Linked DNA regions of Homo sapiens. The protein of the gene in region 2 purifies or fractionates together with the protein of the main gene of each other region. This does not show direct contact. Each region holds a gene or a part of one and is shown on either strand. Other genes may lie near its edges.

The links.
Region 1: the proteins of GSX1 (region 2) and S100A13 purify together in Homo sapiens (affinity purification with mass spectrometry; one large-scale study listed by BioGRID and IntAct). This does not show direct contact.

What each region holds. Positions count from the first base shown.
Region 1 is NC_000001.11:153,620,919-153,625,272, reverse strand, and holds part of S100A13 (protein S100-A13), read left to right. Parts: intron 1-4,354. UniProt on the Homo sapiens protein: Plays a role in the export of proteins that lack a signal peptide and are secreted by an alternative pathway. Binds two calcium ions per subunit. Binds one copper ion. Binding of one copper ion does not interfere with calcium binding.
Region 2 is NC_000013.11:27,790,581-27,795,868, forward strand, and holds GSX1 (GS homeobox 1), read left to right. Parts: upstream 1-1,902; 5' UTR 1,903-2,110; coding exon 2,111-2,522; intron 2,523-2,985; coding exon 2,986-3,368; 3' UTR 3,369-4,188; downstream 4,189-5,288. UniProt on the Homo sapiens protein: Probable transcription factor that binds to the DNA sequence 5'-GC[TA][AC]ATTA[GA]-3'. Activates the transcription of the GHRH gene. Plays an important role in pituitary development.

The DNA of each region.
Region 1 (4,354 bases), on a different chromosome or scaffold from region 2:
GCAAAATCCCCTACAACTTCCAACTTCTCAGACTTTTTTTTGAGACAGGGTTTCTCACTCTGTTGCCCAGGCCACTGTGCGATCACAGCTCATTGCATCCTTGACCTTCCGGGCTCAGGCAATCCTCCTGCCCCAGCCTCACAAGTAGCTGGGACCACAGGCGCATGCCACACTGCCTGGCTAATTTTTTCTTTTTTTGTGACAGAGTCTCACTCTGTCACCGAGGCTGGAGTGCAATGGTGCGATCTTGGCTCACTGCAACCTCTGCCTCCTGGGTTCAAGTGGTTCTCTTACCTCAGCCTCATGAGTAGCTGGGATTACAGGCAACCGCCACCATGCCTGGATAATTTTTGTATTTTTAGTAGAGACGGGGTTTCACTATGTTGGCCAGGCTGGTTTCGAACTCCTGATCTCAGGTGATCCACCTGCCTCGGCCTCTCAAAGTGCTGGAATTACAGGCGTGAGCCACCGCGCCTGGCCTAATTTTTAAGTTACTTGTAGAGATGTGGTCTCTCTGTGTTTCCCAAGCTGGTCTCAAACTCTAGGCCTCAAGTGATCCTCCTGCATTGGCCTTCCAAAGTGTTGGGATTACAGTCATGAGCCACTGTGCCCAGCCAGACGTTTCCTTTTTCATCTTTTTTACTGGAAACTTCAGGTTCTCTCCTGAAGGGACAGCATTCCTTATATCCTTGTCAAGCAGTGATTGTGGTTTTTTTTTTTTTTTTCCTAAATTCAACTTCCTCTGGGCCTGGAAATGGAGGAAGTGACCTCTCTGCTTTCCATTATCTCTAGATTTTAGTTTCTTCTTCTTTCTAAGACTTCCCAGCGCCTTGGAAGATCATCTGCCACCTGCCATTCTTCTTATTGCGCTCCTTACAGCTCTTCAGCTCCTGGCTCACTGTTTTCTTCTCATCACTGCTTCTGTTGTTATTCTCAGTGGCTTCAGCATCCGCACAGACAATTCATCCAACATCTGGGCCTTTCAATTTTCTCAACTCCTCATTTCCAAAAAGATTTGTCTTCTTACATCTCAGCATCCCACTCCTCTGTTCATGCTTTAGACTGTGTCATTAACAAAATAACGCACAACTTCCAAAATCTTGATTTCAAGTTTCCCTTTATCTGCTGACCTCCTCCTGTCATTCCAGTTCTGTTCCCCTCTCTAGCTTCTCCACTTCAGCACTTCCCTGACTCCTCAGGTACCTTCAGTCTCTCGACCCTCTCACTTTTGCATCTTCCATCAACATCCCTCGGGTCCTCATTGCCCTTCCTCCTCACCTCAGGTTCTAAGGCTTCTAATTGTAATCACTGCCTTAACCCCGTTGATTCTGTCTCTCTCTGTTCTCAACCCAGTTAATCCACCATTTCACCTATAGTAACTTGCCAGTTAAATCCACTGTTCTGCACCTGCACTTGGATAGCTGAATCTGGCTGGAGAAAAATGCATAGCTTTGTTGACTTGTCTCACTTTAAATCTATAACCACAGACCCCAAAAGGGACCCTTGGCAATACCTGGCGGTTCTGTGTTTCCCTGGTTGATTCATTTACCAGTTCTTTCAGATAATTATTTCACAATTTGTCTTCTCTCCTCAAAGCTCAGTACATCTTTCCACGTTCTCCCTTTTCCTGAGAAGTTTACTCACTGAGAAGTTCAGGACTTCGAGACCAGCCTGGCCAACATAGTGAAACCCCATCTCTACTAAAAATATATTTAAAAAATTAGCTGGGCATGGTTGTGTGCGCCTGTAATCCCAGCTACTTGGGAGGCTGAAGCAGGAAAATTGCTTGAACCCAGGAGGCAGAGGTTGCAGGGAGCTGAGATTGCACCACTGCACTCCAGCCTGGGCAACAGAGGGAGACTGTCTCAAAGGAAAAAAAAAAAAAAGGAAACGAAAATAGGAGCAATCAGGAAACTTGTATGTGCTCCCTCCCCGAAATCAGCAGTCTTCTGTTATGCAAATGATACGTCACTGCCCCTAAGGCCAACCCTTCACTGGTGCCCTGGATCCCATCCCCTCTCACCCACTGCACTCCAGTCTGGGTGACCGACAGAGCGAGACTCCGTCTCAAAAAAAAAGACTTTCCTCTTGAAATTACTCCTCTCTTTCTTGTGTCCTCAAATTTTCCTTCTCCACTGTATCGTTCTTACCAGCTTACAACTGATACCTCTTTTTTTTTTTTTGAGACAGAGTCTCACTTTGTTGCCCAGGCTAGAGTGCAATGGCGTGATTACAGTTCACTGCAGCCTCTACCTCCTACGCTCAAGTGATCCTTCCACCTCAGCCTTCTGAGTAGCTGGGACTACAGGCATGTGCCACCATGTCTGGCTAATTTTTTAATTTTTTTGTAGAGACAGGGCCTCTGTACGTGTGCGTGCATGTAATTAGGTAAGCAAAGATACTGTGTGCCAGTGGGAGTATGGGCTTGTATCAGATGATGCTGTTGGGTTCTTGTGTATGTTCTGTGCTTTTCTGGTCTAATTTCCCCAAGACAGGACTGGACCCAGAGCTGGCTTCCAGGAGATTCACAGACCATCACAGCTGGAAGGAGGCCAAGAGAAAACACAGTCCCCATTCCTCACTTCACATATATGGAAACTGAGGCCTAATTTTTAAATGTTTTTGTAGAGGCAGGGCCTCATTATATTGCCCATGCTGGTCTTGAACTCCTAGGCTTAAGTGATCCTCCTGCCCTGGCCTCCCAAAGTGTTGGGATTACAGGCATGAGCCACTATGCCCAGCCCAATCCTTTATTGATGGAAATTTTTCTTATGTCCATTTCTTCCTTCTTGCAAATATCTGTTTGTATACCTACATACTGGTGGAAAAATAACAACATAAGGTAAATGTTTGGCAGTAGAAATATTAGGTTAAGTGGCATGTTCATTTTTAATTTGTTTTTGAGAAAGGATCTTGCTCTTTCACCCAGGCTGGAGTGCAGTGGCATGATCTCGGGTCACTGCAACCTCTGCCTCCCAGGTTCAAGCGATTTTCCTGGCTCAGCCTCCCTGAGTAGCTGGGACTACAGGCTTGTGCCACCACGCCTGGCTAATTTTTGTATTTTTAGTAGAGACGAGGTTTCGCCATGTTGGCCAGGCTGGTCTCGCACTCCTGACTTCAGATGATCTGCCTGCCTCGGCCTCCCAAAGTGCTGGGATTACAGGGGTGAGCCACCGAGACCAGCTTTCATTTTTAATTTTTGTGATTACCAATTTGCCTCCTAAAAAAGTTGTACCAGTTTATATGGCTACCCACACTTCATGCGATGCCTGTGTACTTGTCCAAACTGGGTGTTATTGAGCTTTTACTTTTTGCTAATCTATGATGTGAAAATGATATCTTTTTCTGATTTACGCTTATATAATTCTGAGTGAAATGGAACTTCAATTTTTTTTTTTTTTAATTTTTTTGAGACGAGGTCTCACTCTGTCACCCAGGCTGGGCTGGAGTGCAGTGGTGTGATCTCGGCTCACTGCAACCTCCACCTCTTGGGTTCGAGCGATTCTTGAACCGTGCATCACCATGCCTGGCTGATTTTTGCATTTTTAGTAGAGATGGGGTTTCTTTCTTTCTTTCTTTCTTTTTTTTTTTGAGCAGCAGCAAGATTTATTGCAAAGAGCGAAAGAACAAAGCTTCCACAGTGTGAGAGACCCGAGCGGGTTGCCCGAGATGGGGTTTCATCACGTTGGCCAGGCTGGTCTTGAACGCCTGACCTCGAGTTATCCACCCGCCTTGGCCTCCCAAAGTTCTGGGATTACAGGCATGAGCCACCATGCCCAGCCAGTAACATTTTATAATGTTAAAAAGAATCCTGTAGGCCGGGCGTGGTGGCTCATGCCTGTAATCCCAGACCTTTTGGAGGCTGAGGTGGGTGGATCACCTGAGGTCAGGAGTTTGAGACTAGCCTGGCAAACATGGTGAAACCCCATCTCTACTAAAAATAGAAAAATTAGCAAGGCGTGGTGGTGGGTGCCTATAATCCCAGCTCCTCGGGAGGCTGAGGCAGGAGAATTGCTTGAACCCAGAAGGTGGGGGTTGCAGTGAGCTGAGATCATACTACTGCACGCCAGCCTGGGCGACAGAGTAAGACTCCATCTCAAAAAAAAAAAAAAATCCTGTAGATAGTTTAATTGGGATCATATAAAAGATATATTTTAGGGAAAATCAACATTTTTAGCTGATTGAGCCTTTCTCTTTAAGAAAAATATATGTTTATTCCATTTTCTATTTATTCAAGGTTTTTTTTAATATCCCTGTGGTATAATATGAAATATATAGTTGTCATTTTGTATCCATGGGAATTGTTCCCAGAACCCCCTTGGATGCCAAAATCCTTGGATGCTCAATTACCTTT
Region 2 (5,288 bases):
GCTCCACGCTGGCCACTCGCGGGCTCCCAGCTCCGGGTGCAGTGCCCGCCCCTTGCACCCCTGGGCCCCGCCCGCCCTTGCGCCCCTCCAGCCTGCCTCTGCCCAGCGGAAAGCCCCTCTCCCCGCCCGGGTCTCGCTCTTCGCTTCCTCTCAGCGACCCAGCCCAGCTCAAATTTCCCAGAGAGCAATTAGAACGGGAATTAGGCTGCATTGATGCGTTCCGGCTGGTTTGCAGGCACCACCCTAGAGTGGGGGAGCCTTGGCGCTGAGACTCTGTCTCAGAGGGCAGCCTTGCCCCCCACTCCATGCCAAGCAACCAAGAAAACATTGAACCCTTACTCCTGCTAGATGCCATGCCCTCCATGCAGGTTACTTCTCCCATTGTCCTATTCCCTTTTACAGAAGCAGTTATTATCTCGCAAAACAAATTATCTTTGCTTTTTAATCAGTTATAATCTGTTGCTGTTGTTATTGCAAAGATGTTGCCAAGGATAAAAGCCCATGCAGATGCTTCGGGTTTGGGCAATCTTATTCCTGCGCACTGCTTCCCCAGACCCCTAAGCTTCCCCCTCCATTTCTCACAATTCCATTCAGGGCTCAGAGCAGGTGACTGCAGCGATTTGGTTCCAATAAAATCGAAAGTAAACGTCTCCTGTGAAAAGTCCCGGGCTGTAAATTAGAAATGTTTATGCTGATTTCCCATTGTATGGAAAAAGCTCCTGGGCGAAACAGCTTTGAGCCCGAGAACGATTTAAAAAGCTGGAGCTGTGTACACAGCTCTGAGCGTTTGAAGTTGTTTAACCATTGTGTGACCAGAAAGAAGAGTGACGCGGCAGGAAGAAGAAGCCGGGTCTTGGGGAGAGCGGAGGCGGGTCAGGGTGGGCAAAGGCAGCCGATGCCAGGAATACAACCGCCCTTCGCGCCGTTCCAAACTAAGAGATGGCAGCGGTTTCCCAGCGCACTGCTGGAAGTGTGCTCCAGTAGACAGGGTGTGGGCAAGATGCGCGGGCAGACAGTCCGCACTCGCCACATGTGCTGGGGTGCGAGATCTAGATCTGCGCCATCTCGGCTTTCATTCCCCATTCCCTGTCTCTGTTCGTAACGCTCAGAGACTGTTTTTCCTCTTTTACATCCACGGCCCTGTCATTTGAAGGAAAGGGCTGGTTGGCCAGCATCTACCGAACAAAGACTGGGCGTCGTAGGCAGCACCAAAATTAAGACTATTTGAGAAACTTAGAGAAAACCGAGGGACAGCGATGGGTCTAGGGCTGGATAAGGAATAATGAGCCCTTCTCCTCCCTCCCCACAGACGCCTCCTTCACGCGGGAACCCGGTCCTCCTTCTTCCGACGCAGAGAGAGAAGCGATTCCACAGGTGGAAAATCTGAGACCGGCTGGAGGGAGGTTCGGGGGTGCACGGCACTGAGCTGACAGGGCTGACTGGAGACAGCATACTTTTGGGGTGTAAGGGCGATAATAGAAAGAAGGGGACCAGGACCAAGTGGACAGAGGATATGAGGGTGTGCGCCCATGGGGATCTGTAGAAGAGAGGCCGCGGGGGTGCAAAATCAGTAAGGTGAACGGGCTGATGGCCAATGCAAAGCCAAAGGGGAGTAAGAAATAAAGAGAAAGGAAAGAATATTAAATCGCGGGAGAATGAGAAAATAAACCCGCAAAAGGGAGAGGAGGGGGCGAGGGCGCCTGTTACGGCGTGGGTGGGGTTGACAAGAATAGAGTACATTATGCAGTTCATTTAGTTAACAAGTGAAATAATGAGGAAGCGTGCAGAGTGAATGCCAAGAGAAAAGGCACAAAAACCCTATTGAGAGGCCCCGGCCGCTCCTGGCGTAGTCCATCACATGGCAATAGTCCTATTTAAGCCGCGCCGCCGGCGCCTTTCAGCACCACTAGCGCTGGCCAGCACCCCGCGCTCTTTGGGCGGTGCCCACGGCAGCAGAGGCTACTGTTTCAGCCTAGGTCTCAGCCGCGCGTTCAGCCTCCTGGGCAGAGGCAGCTGCGGGATACCGCGGCCAGGGAAAGCGCGTGGAGAGCCGAAAGGTGCGGTGGGCGCAGAGGGCGGGCTGGCTGCGGGGCGACCGCGCGCCGGGGCCATGCCGCGCTCCTTCCTGGTGGACTCGCTAGTGCTGCGCGAGGCGGGCGAGAAGAAGGCGCCCGAGGGCAGCCCGCCGCCGCTCTTCCCCTACGCTGTGCCCCCGCCGCACGCGCTGCACGGTCTCTCGCCTGGCGCCTGCCACGCGCGCAAGGCTGGGCTGCTGTGCGTGTGCCCGCTCTGCGTCACCGCCTCGCAGCTGCATGGGCCCCCCGGGCCGCCCGCGCTGCCTCTACTCAAGGCTTCCTTCCCACCCTTCGGCTCGCAGTACTGCCACGCGCCCCTGGGCCGCCAGCACTCTGCTGTGTCGCCCGGGGTCGCTCACGGCCCGGCCGCCGCTGCTGCTGCCGCCGCGCTCTACCAGACCTCCTACCCGCTGCCTGACCCCAGGCAGTTCCACTGCATCTCTGTGGGTAAGCGGGGCCGCCGCGCAGAGGGACCGGGCAGAGGTGATCCGAAGCAGGATGGAGAGCCAGAGATGGAGGAAGAGGGACCCTGGGCTTTCTGGGGGCGGTGAGGGTCATGTCGGGGACTAAGGGGGGCGCTTGGGGTGGAGTGAGGATAGAGGGCCGGGACACAACGCCAGGAGGCGGATGAGGGCAGACGTCCAGGTCCTGGAGTGTGGGCCGGGGTAAGTGAGGGCTGGGATCCAAGGCTCTCCATGAAGGGGAAGGGGTTCCAGGGCTGCATGACTCCGGGAGAATCAGGATCTCGGAGCTGGACAAGGAGCGCTCACTGTAGCTCTGCTGTGGATTGTGTTGGGGCGAAGAGATGGGTAAGAGGTCAAAGTCGTAGGATTCTGGCGACCGCCTACCAAGGGATTGGGTCCACAGCACAGAGGTCTGATCGCTTCCTTCTCTGCTCTGCCACCTCCAGACAGCAGCTCTAACCAGCTGCCCAGCAGCAAGAGGATGCGCACGGCTTTCACCAGCACGCAGCTGCTAGAGCTGGAGCGCGAGTTCGCTTCTAATATGTACCTGTCCCGCCTACGTCGCATCGAGATCGCGACCTACCTGAATCTGTCCGAGAAGCAGGTGAAGATCTGGTTTCAGAACCGCCGAGTGAAGCACAAGAAGGAGGGCAAGGGCAGCAACCATCGTGGCGGCGGCGGCGGGGGTGCCGGTGGTGGCGGGAGCGCACCGCAAGGCTGCAAGTGCGCATCGCTCTCCTCAGCCAAGTGCTCCGAGGATGACGACGAATTGCCCATGTCTCCGTCCTCCTCAGGGAAGGACGACCGGGATCTTACGGTCACTCCCTAGGCGCGTGTCTCCCTAGGTCGCCCACCCCAAGACCTCCCTGCGCCTCGGAGACTAGTCCTGGGACTCAGCGCTGATTCCCAGGCACCCGCAGCCAAACCACTGCCTGGCATGGATTTGGCACTGCTTTGCAGAGGTCCCGGGCCTGGGCAGGGCTGAGAGCTTGGCAGAGACTGGACCATGGCGTCCCCGCCCCAGGGCTCGCTCGTGTCCAAAGCCAACTCCAAGCTGTGAACACTGTAAGCGCTCGAGTCCTCCTGGGCAGTGCAGCACCGCGGCCCCCGCCCGCAAGCCTGCTTGGCGCAGCGCCTTGCTGGCAGCCGGCGCCTCCTAGCCCGCCCTCTCTGGGCTGGCTTGGGCTTCCTCGCTTACTCTACTCTCCTCCGCTCTCGGTCAAGGTCGGCGGCCTTGGATGCTCGTTCGCTTCTCTTTTTAAAATGTCTTTTTGTCCCTCCCCACCTCTTTCCTGTGATCATTTATTCACTCGGCCCCCGCCCGCCAACACACACATTTATGAACCCCCACTTTTTTTTTCCTTCTCCTTTTCCCTTCCCCTCCTCAGGGAGCCTCCTCCTTCAGTCAGTCCATTTGTCCCTTGATCTGGCCTTGCTGTCCTCAGTCCCCACGGCTCCTCTCACAGATGATAAATTTCGCCCGTAGTATCCATATTGGGGAAACAGATTTGCTCTGTTTCCAACACGCTCTTCCTTCCTCTAAACATAGGACCCCGCTCTGCGCCGCTGGCGACCCCACTCTTCCCCCTCCAGACTCTGGCCCGCCCCAGCCTAGCTGTGTAATTGTACGGCCTCTGCAATGCCAGAAGATATTTATTTATTTATTTATGTACAAAATTTTAAATAAACTTTTTTTTTTCTTAGAAATGCCCGTGGCTCTGAGCCCAGAGGCCTTCGCTCTGGAGTAGACAGGCGCCAACCCGGATTGGGCCTCCCTTCTGGGAAGGGTTGGGGATCCAGTTGCAGGGTCCGAGCCGGCTCCTCGCCTTACAGCTCAGCCAGTGCCTCTCGGAACCCTCAGCTCCGCTGAGAGCCCGCCTTGCATGCCAGCCAGGTGCGCGCTAACGATTGTCCCGCTCCGGCGTGGCGCACAAGCGTCGCGGAGCTCAGAGAGCTAAGCCGGAAGGGAAGGAGAGCGCTCTCCTTGGACTGCACCATGGGTCCCAACCCCTGCAGCGCCTCCTTCTCACCTGGGATCCAGCCCCACCTCCATCCCTCACCATTTCGCTGTCCTGGCCAACAGCCGGGAGGGCAGAAACCACTCCCTCCATAAGCACAAGAAATCCGTCCTTCACTGCGCTTGGATTGATAACGATTCGTTAGGGACAAATTTCCATTCTGCGGGATGGTGCAGACTTCTCTCAGAGGGCCCTCCTCTCTTTGTTTTAAGGCAAATTCCCTTAGCCGAGTCCCTGGTCGCGGAACATTCCGGGCAAGGAATCCGAGAATCCGAAGTGATCCTGCCCCAGGGAGTCCCCGAGAGGGACTCTGCATAGCTGGAGCCAGTGGCTCTGGGACCTCATGTTCTCACCAATTCTCGTTAAAATCCTATATCCCCCTACGACTTAGAATCCACACCCCAGCTCCCTTTGAGGACATATGCGGGTTTTTTTACTCTCTAAGATGGATGAGGAGAAGGAAGTGCGTGAGGTTCTGCAGAAACGGAGAGCGCACAGCTGCGGGAGGAGTATTTCTGCAGTCAGTATTTCTGCAGTCAGACCTGGGAAGCTAATATCCGCGTTCTCGCCGCTCCCATTCTGTGTCCAGGAAACCTGATAGACCTTCTTTTCCTGCCAGACCCCTACACACACACACAGACACACACACACATACACACCCTGGGGAGCGCTGAACTCCCCGTGTCTAGGCAAAGCAAATGCGTCTTTTCCAGCAGGAAAGACGGTCCACC